Linked DNA regions of Homo sapiens. The protein of the gene in region 1 purifies or fractionates together with the protein of each later gene. This does not show direct contact. Each region holds a gene or a part of one and is shown on either strand. Other genes may lie near its edges. The genes, in order: ADAR and HDLBP.

The links.
Region 2: the proteins of ADAR (region 1) and HDLBP purify together in Homo sapiens (affinity purification with western blotting; 2 studies listed by BioGRID, with this or other methods). This does not show direct contact.

What each region holds. Positions count from the first base shown.
Region 1 is NC_000001.11:154,581,380-154,584,305, forward strand, and holds the end of ADAR (double-stranded RNA-specific adenosine deaminase), read right to left. Parts: 3' UTR 678-2,926; downstream 1-677. UniProt on the Homo sapiens protein: Catalyzes the hydrolytic deamination of adenosine to inosine in double-stranded RNA (dsRNA) referred to as A-to-I RNA editing.
Region 2 is NC_000002.12:241,249,533-241,256,828, forward strand, and holds part of HDLBP (vigilin), read right to left. Parts: intron 7,275-7,296; coding exon 7,068-7,274; intron 6,868-7,067; coding exon 6,652-6,867; intron 6,049-6,651; coding exon 5,842-6,048; intron 5,627-5,841; coding exon 5,519-5,626; intron 3,966-5,518; coding exon 3,861-3,965; intron 3,504-3,860; coding exon 3,425-3,503; intron 449-3,424; coding exon 309-448; intron 1-308. UniProt on the Homo sapiens protein: Appears to play a role in cell sterol metabolism. It may function to protect cells from over-accumulation of cholesterol.

The DNA.
Region 1 (2,926 bases):
GGAATTATGTACCTAATAGGTGATCCTCTCTCAAGGGATGTTTTCCTACTCTGGGCCTTGAAATCTTGCGTCTCAAGTCCCGTGGGACAAGATATTTAATAGTGGGCTCTGGCTGGGAGCAGTGGCTCACGCCTGTAATCCCAGCACTTTGGGAGGCTGAGGTGGACCTCACGAGGTCAGGAGATTGAGACCATCCTGGCTAACACGGTGAAACCCCATCTCTACTAAAAATACAAAAAAATTAGCCAGGCGTGGTGACAGGCGCCTGTAGTCCCAGCTACTCGGGAGGCTGAGGCAGGAGAATGGCGTGAACCCGGGAGGCGGAGCTTGCAGTGAGCCGAGATCGCGCCACTGCACTCCAGCTTGAGAGACAGAGTGATACTCCATCTCTAAATCAATCAATCAATCAATCAATCAATCAATCAATCGTGGGCTCTGCTGGGGAAGGGCCCTGCTGGGTACGTAATCAAAAGGTGCCTGATGAACCCCACCCCACCCAGACGCAAATTTACCCACAAAGGGAGGTTCTTTGAAATGGCTCCTTTCCAAAGGCTGAGGGACAGCCCTGTCCCCCACAGGTTCATGTCAGATGCCACTGGTGCTGTTATCAGAAACCCCAGGGCCACAGGTCCCTTTGTTCCCATTTTCACCTCCCCCAAGAAACCAGGACTTAAAACTTTCTAAGAATTCAGATTCTTGTTTTTTTTTTATTTATGAGGAATGTATATTGTTAAGTCACTGTTATCAAGGGACACATAAAAGCAGAATCATAAAACTGGACTGCAGCCATCATCACAGTACCCGAGTCTATGCTTGGGGGTCTTCCTCACTCTGCTCTTGGAGTCACAACCAAGACTCCAAAAAACCAACGAAGTCCCTTCAATGTGAGTAAAGGAAACAGCTTCAAGCACTGACAATTTTTACAAGTGATTATTCAAGGAATGCACAGTAGCCACAGTTCAGACAAATCAACTACAAAAATCATTAAAAAGAAGAGTAGGGAGGGTCACTGCTTATTAAAAACAAAAGACTGGACAAAGAAAGTGAAGATAACAGTGGGCAGAAGCTCTGCCTCCTCTGTCCTGTGTGACTCAGAGGGGCATGGGGGCGCAGGGATGTGCGATCTGACACGGCTCGTTTCCAGCAGATGCGTGGAATTCAGGGATGCCTCGCTCTCTTCCTACAACAGAAACTGAATACTACAGGCTTGCTAGATAAGATCTTGGGGGTGAGTGGGGGTTCTGATCTTGTGAGAGCCTGTGTTCCCAGTTAAAGAAGAGGCAGCTGGCCAGAGCTCTGCTGGAGAACCTAATGCCCAAGATGGACCAGAGAGGCCAAACAACCTGAGGACTCAGCAGGTGACAACCCTGTAGCCTGAAGAGGAGAGGGGCTGCGCTGCCTTCTGATGCTGAGAACCACAGACCTCTCTGCCCTGGATGTGGGTGCCAAGACTGATTTACTGTGCCCCCAGCAGACCCAGAGCCAGGGAGCAGGCCTCTTCCACTCCAGGAGACAGGCGCCACTTCCCTACCAGTTCCTTGGGATGCTTTGGTGTTCTGCAAAGGCATCCTTAGTCTATTTTTAGAACTTGCATTTTCTTACTTTGGTCAATTTTTGGTCAAAAGTACAGAGAGCATAGAATAAAAGCAAAGATGTGAATGTCTCTACCAGACAGAGGATGACCTAGTCAGCAGTTTGGAGGGAAATCATCTGAGGGTGCTGGCTCAGCACGTTCCCAGATGAAGGTCTGTCATCTAAAGGAGAGAGGCAGGCTCAGCTCCTGAAGGTCGCAGAGCCTCAGTAGTCCTCCTGAGTGTGTCTAGCTGACTGTTATCGAGGGACACGTAAAAGCAGCATCACAAAACTGGACTGCAGCCATCACCACGGCACCAAGTCTATGCTTGGGCTCTTCCCTGCTCTGCTCTTGGAGTCATGACCAACACTCTAAAAGCCAACAAAGTCCCTTCAACATGAGTAAAGGAAACAGTTTCAAGCACTGACAGTTTTTACGAGTGACTATTCAAAGAATGCACAGGAGCCAGAGAGCCAGACTCCACAGAGAGGCCAAAGGCTCTGAACACACGAGTCAATGTTCATGGAGGTATAGACAAAGGATTCTACCTCACAGAGTTTGAAGACAACCTGCCCTTTCACCCACAACTACTGCTTTCTATGTCAACCCTATAAAGATCAGGTCTGCGCCCTGCCCACGAGCCTACTTCTGAAGCCATCTGGAAAAATGAAAGCACTTGGATAAATGGAAAAGTATGCCTGAATTTTAAATCTGCTCAATTACAGGTTATCTGTAGCAGTTAAGAATCAACATCTATGGCATTCTTTAAAACACTCCTAATTTACATGTGACTTAGTCAACTTCCCTTGGTGTCACTGTCATGAGAGATATTACACCGGGTGGAACAGTGACGTTAAGCCAACAGGATTTTTTGCCCTTATTCTTGCTAAGTCATGATTATCTGAGCAGAGATGATTTTATACCCTCTAGGATTTGTCCCGTTGGCTAGGGTGTACGCCCAGCATTGGCGGGGAAAATATTCCTAGGAATGCTTTAGGAGAAGAGGCAGCTGGAAGCTTGGCAATATTCCAAGGCATGCCCGTGCTCCCTGGGAAGTGGTCTGTGTCATCCTGCCGGGTGAAACCTCTGCTATTGCTTGAGCAGCTCCCTTAACCCAGTCTGGCTGGTTCTAGACTTCCCAGCTGCCGGAGAAAGTGATACACTTCCAGGGAAGCAGCTTTCCTTGCCTTGCCCGCCCTGCAGCTGGCTAAAGTGCAGGATGGGAGGATGGCTGGGCATTATCTGCAGGCTCCAATCACACTTCCGTGGCACTGGGAACTGCAGTTTTCAACTCCTACCCTTACAAATGTTTCACCAAATCCTTTATGTTCACCTCTTTGCCCTCTGAGGGGG
Region 2 (7,296 bases), on another chromosome or scaffold:
TGTCTGTCACAATCTCTGGAGATGGTACCCAGGCATCTGGGCACCCAGGGTGTGGCCAAGGCCAAGACGCTGCCACACAGTCTCTGTGCCCTTCTAGCACAGCACACAGCCATGGAGAACAAGACGTGCAGGTGACCTGGGGAGGATAAAGGAAATGTGGCCCCAGGGAGTCCAATCCGGTTCCAGTGCAACGTGGGATTTGTCGACTTCCATTCTCTAAGGCCGCACACCACAACACGCTACTCCTTAGAGGGGGCCAAGAGACGCAAGGCCAGTGCCTTTCTAGAGGGCCCAGCCATGGCACTTACCATGCGAGATGCAAGCTCCAGCAGCTCTCGCTTGGCCTGCTGCACGCCCTGTGGGTCCCCCTCGATGCGGATCAAATTGCTCTTCTCACTGTCAGGAGGGATGCGCACGGACACCTTGTACTGGTCTTTGATTCTGTTTACTTAGGAACACAAAAGGAAACACATTTAGGACACAGACCAACAACATTCTGCCAATGACATAACTGGGCAGGACAGCGCTAAAGCGCTAAATAACCTTATCTGTGATTCCCATCACCAAAAACGATGCTTAGCTTCCCAAACAAAAATCTCCATTGTCTAGAATGGGGGCCAGTTATGATCTTCACCTGGATCACAAGGGTTCTGGAGGACAGGCTCTCAGCCTGGACCAGAAGCTGGAAATGCCCCGAGACCTTCAAATAACTGACGGTTGGGGCCACTCAGTCTGGGATTTAGCTCGTCTGGGGTATTGGCCAGGGCTTCAGAATAGTTGAAGGATTCCAGGTGTTTCTAATGTGCAGTAAGTTTGGGAACTACTATTCTCAAGTTAAAAAAACCACACACATTAACTCCACACAAAAGCACTCACTGACGCCTAAGAGCCTTGTGGGGCCCATGCTGCTGCCCAGAGACCCCATCTACTGTTGGCTCAGATTCACACTGAGCACTTCACTGTGTCTGCAAGACAAGTGCTGTTGCAAACCCTCCTGCTGTCAACCTCTCTGGATAGAACCCAGTACCCCCAAGTTAAGAGTTCCAGGCCCCCCAAACTCTGGAGAAGCCGTATCATCAGGAAACAAGGCAGGAATCTTGCCCACTGTGCAGTAAAGGGAAGCCCAGCTTGCTGGAAGGACCACGAGGAGGGCTTTTTGTGCGTCCATCCCAAACACATGCACACGCAGAGGCAGCAACGAGGCGATGCACTGAGGGGGGAACATGGACATGCAGCTGTGCCAGGTGAAGCAACACAAGACAAGAGAAGCAGAGGACATGGGAGCTGGGCAGCAGGTTTTTTTAGATTACGAAAGAAGACAAGAGTTAGGAACTGCATGAGAAGAAAACAGAACAGACATGACTGACTAAGCTACATTCTGCAATTTCTCGGGGGCAGAAACCAGAAATTAATGTTAGATTTACACTACTGTACTTCCATATATATGTGTTTTGAGACAGGGTCTTGCTCTGTCACCCAGGCTAAAATGCAGTGGCACGATACAATCACAGCTCACTGCAGCCTTGACTTCCTGGGCTCAAGTGATATTCCTGCCTCAGCCTCCAGAGCAGCGGGGACCACAGGCCTGGCTAAATTTTTCTTTTTTGTAGAGACAGGGGTCTCACTATGTTGCCCAGGCTCATCTCGAACTCCTGGGCTCAAGTGATCCTCCTGCCTTGGTCTCCCAAAATGCTGGGATTACAGGCAAGAGCCACCGTGTCAGGCCTAAACAAACGCTACAGTTAACCAAAACCAAAACAAAACCGTAAAAGCAAGTTTATGGTGTATGTGTGGTTCAAGTAGTGCGCAAAAAGGTCACTTTGTGCCTACAGACTCTCGTCGCTGTCACGTAAAATGCCCACAAAACATAAGACTGACACCAGAGAGCTCACCATTGCACAGGCCACAGCACAGCTGCCAAGGCTATGTTTACTCATAACAAAAACGGATACACGGACGTCAGTCATGTTATGCAGGTCGGTGTCCCACTACCTGGGAAAGGCTCCTTCATCCACTGAACTATCCAGGAATGGAGGACGTGCTTGCCTTCTCACCTTCCACCCAAAGGTAACACACGCGACGTGTGCACTTGTTTTCAGAACACGCGAGTGTGTGAGTATAGCCATACAGTTAAACAAAGAGGTGTAAAAAAACATTCTTGGTTGGGCACAGTGGCTCATGCCTGTAATCCCAGCACTTTGGGAGGCCGAGGTGGGCAGATCAACTAAGGTCAGCAGTTTGACACCAGCCTAGACAACATGGTGAAATTCCATCTCTACTAAAAATACAAAAAAATTAGCTGGGTGTGGTGGTGCACGCCTGTAATCCCAGCTACTTGGGAGGCTGAGGCAGGAGAATCGCTTGAACCTGGGAGGTGGACGTTGCAGTGAACTGAGATCACGCCACTGCACTCCAGCCTGGTGACAGAGCGAGACTCCGTCCCAAAAAACAAACAAACAACACAAAACATCCTTGGACCTGCAGCAGAATGCCCACGACACACTTCTAACAGCATCCTGTAACTGTGCTACACCTGCAACCTGGCACAGGTGAGGCACACAGCGACCTTGGCCCACATGACATACTTCCAACAGTGTCCTGTAACTGTGCTACACCTACAACCTGGCACAGGTGAGGCATATAGCGACCTTGGCTGACATATCACTGCCTCTTCAACAGAATCCCCCTGCTGGGTGTGGTGGCTCACACTTTTAATCCCAGCACCTTGGGAGGCCAAGGTGGGCAGATCACCTGAGCCCAGGAATTTGAGACAAGCCTGGCCAACATGGTGAAACCCCGTCTCTTCTAAAAATACAAAAATTAATTGGCTGTGGTGGCATGCACCTGTAGTCCCAGCTACTCAGGAGGCTGAAGCTGGAGAATTGCTTGAGCCCGGTAGGCAGAGGTTGTAGTGAGCTGAGATCACGCCACTGCACTCCAGCCTGGGTGACAGAGTGAGACCCTGTCTCAAAAAAGTATCCCTCCCCATGTTGTTTTACTTGGGCACAAATCTAGAATGTTTTTACTCTTCAGTGAGTTCCAGATCAGCAGTTTCCACGTTCAGAAGGCATGAGTACTACCAACACTGATTGGCTAACCTAGCAGGTCTGACGGAAATATAGAGAATGCTGCCCTTGGGCATGCCTTCAACATGGCCTCTGTGGGTTATTTGGGGAGGGCTTAGATGGATTTCCAAAAGTGACAATTCACCCACTGGCCAAGCAGCTCTAATCCAACCACTGCACCAAAGGGAAAAGGAAAAGTGGCCTCTTCCAGCAGGCAGGAGGATGTAAAGTCTGTAACTCCCATTACAGGCAGCAATGGGCCTGGACTGTCTGCACGGACGTCACAGTTCTCACAGCTGACACCCCCCACAAGGGTCTCAGGGCACACTGGCCCCACCGCAACAGACAGCCTCACTCACTGTTGGCACCGCTCTTCCCAATGAGGTGCCTGTGGAACTTGTGGTCGATGTTGATCTCCACATAGTCCATCCGGTTAATCTGCAGGAGGAGCACAGAGGTCCATGGATGCGCCTGGTTACTTGGCCAATGAGCTGAACCAAAACCCAGCAGTCTCCACGGTTGCCTTTTCTGACCACTCAGCTGTCAGGAATTGTTGGAGACTGCCCCTGCATCTCCCCTGAAAGATGCCTTCTTCAAGATGAAGTTTCCTCCACCCACGATTATTCCAGGACTTCGACCAGCTTCTGGTTGTTTCAGAACCTATTACTCACCCAGCTAGGATGCCCTGGGTGTCTGTGCCCGGACATGTGGGATGTCATCGAGAGATGACCGCCCATGCCCAACTCAGAGCCTCCCTTGTCACCAGCACACACAACATTCCAAGGGGTACCTTACCAAATCTTTGACCATGCCTTCTATCTGTTCCTGGGCCACATTGACATCCTCTGTAGGGCCCTCCAGGGTGATCTTGTCTTCGCCCTCTGTGAACTCGATGTGAACCTACCACACCAAAACCAAAGAGATAGCTAAAACAGAATGGCACAGCTGCAGCCCCTGAGCTCCCAGTGGGAGCTCTCTTCGGAGCGGCTTCTGATCCCAAACTGCTTCACATAGATGTGAGGGAGGGAGGGACATATCCACAGCCATCAAACAAAGTTGAAAGGGAGGGTTAGGGAGCCATAGTCAGGAAACTAAATACTGTGGCCGAATAATCCTGCCTCTCACTAAGGACACCGTTTGCCCCACAGAAGCCACTAACATAAAGCATGCGACATGCGACATGCTCCTCCACCATCTGAACTTTTACAAGGCCTGGTCCTCTTGAGTTGCATAAAGAATGAGACAGAGCACGGATGGAATTTTAAAACTCGTATAGCTGTACCAAGGTGGTAAAGTAACTTGCTTGACATAGACAAGGCTGCCAGAGTTCCTGGTTTATTATCCTCCAGGTAAGGAGTTAAGGAAGGCAGACTGGTCCTTATATGAAGCTATACAAAGTAAAAGGGGCTGGGCACAGTGACTCACACCCATAACCTCAATATTTTGGGAGGCTGAGGTAGGAGGACTACTTGATCCCACGAGTTCGAGATCAACCTGGGCAACTAGTAAGACTCTGCCTCCACGAAAACTAGCCTGGGGCGCCTGTAGTGCCAGCTACTTGGGAAGCTGAGACGAGCGGATCACTTGACCCATGAGTTCAAGGCTGCAGTGAGCTATGACTGCGCTACTGCACCCCAGCCTGGGTGACAGAGTGAGGCTTTGTCACTAAAAAAAAGGAATAAAATAAAAAAAATTTAATTTTTAAAAAGGACTGTAACATTAATTGGAAACAAAGTTTAAATAAAACAGGAATTAAATATGATGGTTGGATTCTCTGGTATTTCTTTTTTGTTCATGTTTCCTGGGGGCTACAATCTCCTTTGGTAAACTGAGAACGCTTTAAATTCACACTTAATACAATTTGTATACAAGTTCTGCTCTTCAAAGTATTTTTTTTTTTTTTTTGAGACAGAGTCTCGCTCTGTCGCCAAGGCTGGAATGCAGTGGTGCCATCTCGGCTCACTGCAAGCTCCACCTCCCGGGTTCACGCCATTCTCCTGCCTCAGCCTCCCAAGCAGCTGGGACCACAGGTGCCCGCCACCAAGCCCGGCTAATTTTTTGTATTTTTAGTAGAGTCGGGGTTTCACCATGTTAGCCAGGATGGTCTCGATCTCCTGACCTCATGAGCCACCGCACCCGGCCCGCCAAAGTATCATGAAGTTATTTCACCATAATTACTAAATGACATGTTTCTTAAGATACTTATGAAACCTAAGAACATACAATCCTCTCTGGTTAAAGGCCAGAAGGATGGTACAGACATCTACAGACATTTATTCTGCTGTTCTTTAAGCTAACACGGAAGTTGACCATGTCAAACAGGCCAGTTAATTCAGAAAAATACACCAGTTTTCAAGGGCATCCACAGTACAAAGGTCAACAAAGCAATATCAGAAACAGAAAGACAGAAAACAAGACAAATTCAATACAACAGGTGAAAAACGTGTCCTTACCTTTGGCATCTGCTGAGTGATTTTGGCCAGGTTCTGCCCTTTCTTGCCAATGATGAAACGGTGAAGCCAGGAAGGGGCGGCGACAGAGGAGACGGTGAAGCTATTGGCCTAAGAAAATGGGAGAACAGCCATGGGTTTGCAGAGCTCAAGGTCGTGTCACAGTGAAAGCCAGGCTGCTCACCTGGGGCTCAGAGGCACGCTCTCCCCAAACCTGGGCACCTGCACTGTGTCCAGGCCCCAGGATTTACAAATCGAGAGCTCATCCATGAAGGCCCCGCGGACTCCACTCAAAGGAGACACACTTCATGCTCGGAGGCAGTTACCTTGGCATAGACTTCAGTCAACGCCTGACCTAACTTTTCAGGTTCGCCTCGAAGTATTACAGTCTCAGAGATGCTGTCTGAGGGTGGGATCTCAACGGAAACTCCAGTTCTCTCAAGGATCTCCTGCAATGAATTGCCCTTGGGCCCAATGACATACTTGTGTTGGGATTTCTTCACTTCCACTGCAATGGTTGTAGTCTTCTTTTTCTAAATAAGAGCACCATAAGGGGCAGTCAAAGGGAAAGGTGTGGGAAGCGGGCAGGTGGGCATGGCCACTGCTGCAGAAAGCAAGCCAAAGCGGCCCAGACTATAGATGCTGATCCCAAGAAGTGAACAACAAGTGATCAGGACTAGCCAATCCCCAGAAACTTCACTGTTCAAGGACTGGATTTTTCCCCTCAGTCTAGTCACCCGCCGGCTGATAACTTCGTCCTTGAACACTGCAAAACACCCAATCCTTTCCCTCAATTAAGGAACACGTTTCAGACCTCAAAGTTCACTAAGCTGAGCTAACAGCTTAATCTAAGACGTGAACAAGTCCGGGATGTGCATCTGACCCGGGGCAGCCCAGCTGGCAGCCTGTCAGCACAGTCAGAGGCCCAGGACGGCAAGGACAACTGCCAGGCAGATGCTCAACAGCAAGGGGGGGCGGGCACCGATCTCACCCGGGTCACTCAAGTGTAGAGACAATAAGCATCTTCATCAAGGACAAAAAGATAAGGGGCAGAACCAGGCCTTAACTGAATCTCCAGACCCAAATCCTCATTTCTATTCCTGCCCATGGGGATTTGCCTCCTCTAAATCGTGTACCTTCTCCTCATAAATCTTCTTGATGCGAGCCACAGCCTGAGCCAACTGTTCCTTCTCTCCAGTGAAGACAATCTCTGTCCGGTTCACGCTGGGTGGGGGGATGTTGATGCGCGTGCCTGTCTCCTGCATGATCTCGCCAACCAGTCTATTATACGGCCCAGCGATGAAGGGGTGGAATGCCTTTTCTACTTCTAGCCTCTCCACAGCACGTTTGTCCTGGAAAGGAAGGGATGATCTGATGAGAACAGGCCTTTGAAAACAAACTGGGGACAGACAGGGCTTTTTAGAGTTGGAGTCAAGCCCTCCACCCCCACCACATTATGCCTTGAAGTCCACACTGGACACGGCAACCCATGAGGGAGTGAGGTCTGCACAAGCAGGTAGGCAGGGGCACGAGGCACTCACACAGGCCTCACCTGCTCGGCAGAGATGAGTAAGACTTCATGGCGAGCTTTCTCGATGCCCTCTTTGGTGCCAGTGATCTTGATCTGATTGCTGGGGTCATCTGGGCGTGGGATCTGGATTTTGGTTGCAGTTTTTAGCTCCAAGTCTTGCAGTTTCTCTCCATTTTTGCCAATAACAAAGCGATGGTGTTCTTTGGGAATGGCAACAGTTGCTGAGGCCTATAGCAAGAAGAGAATAAAA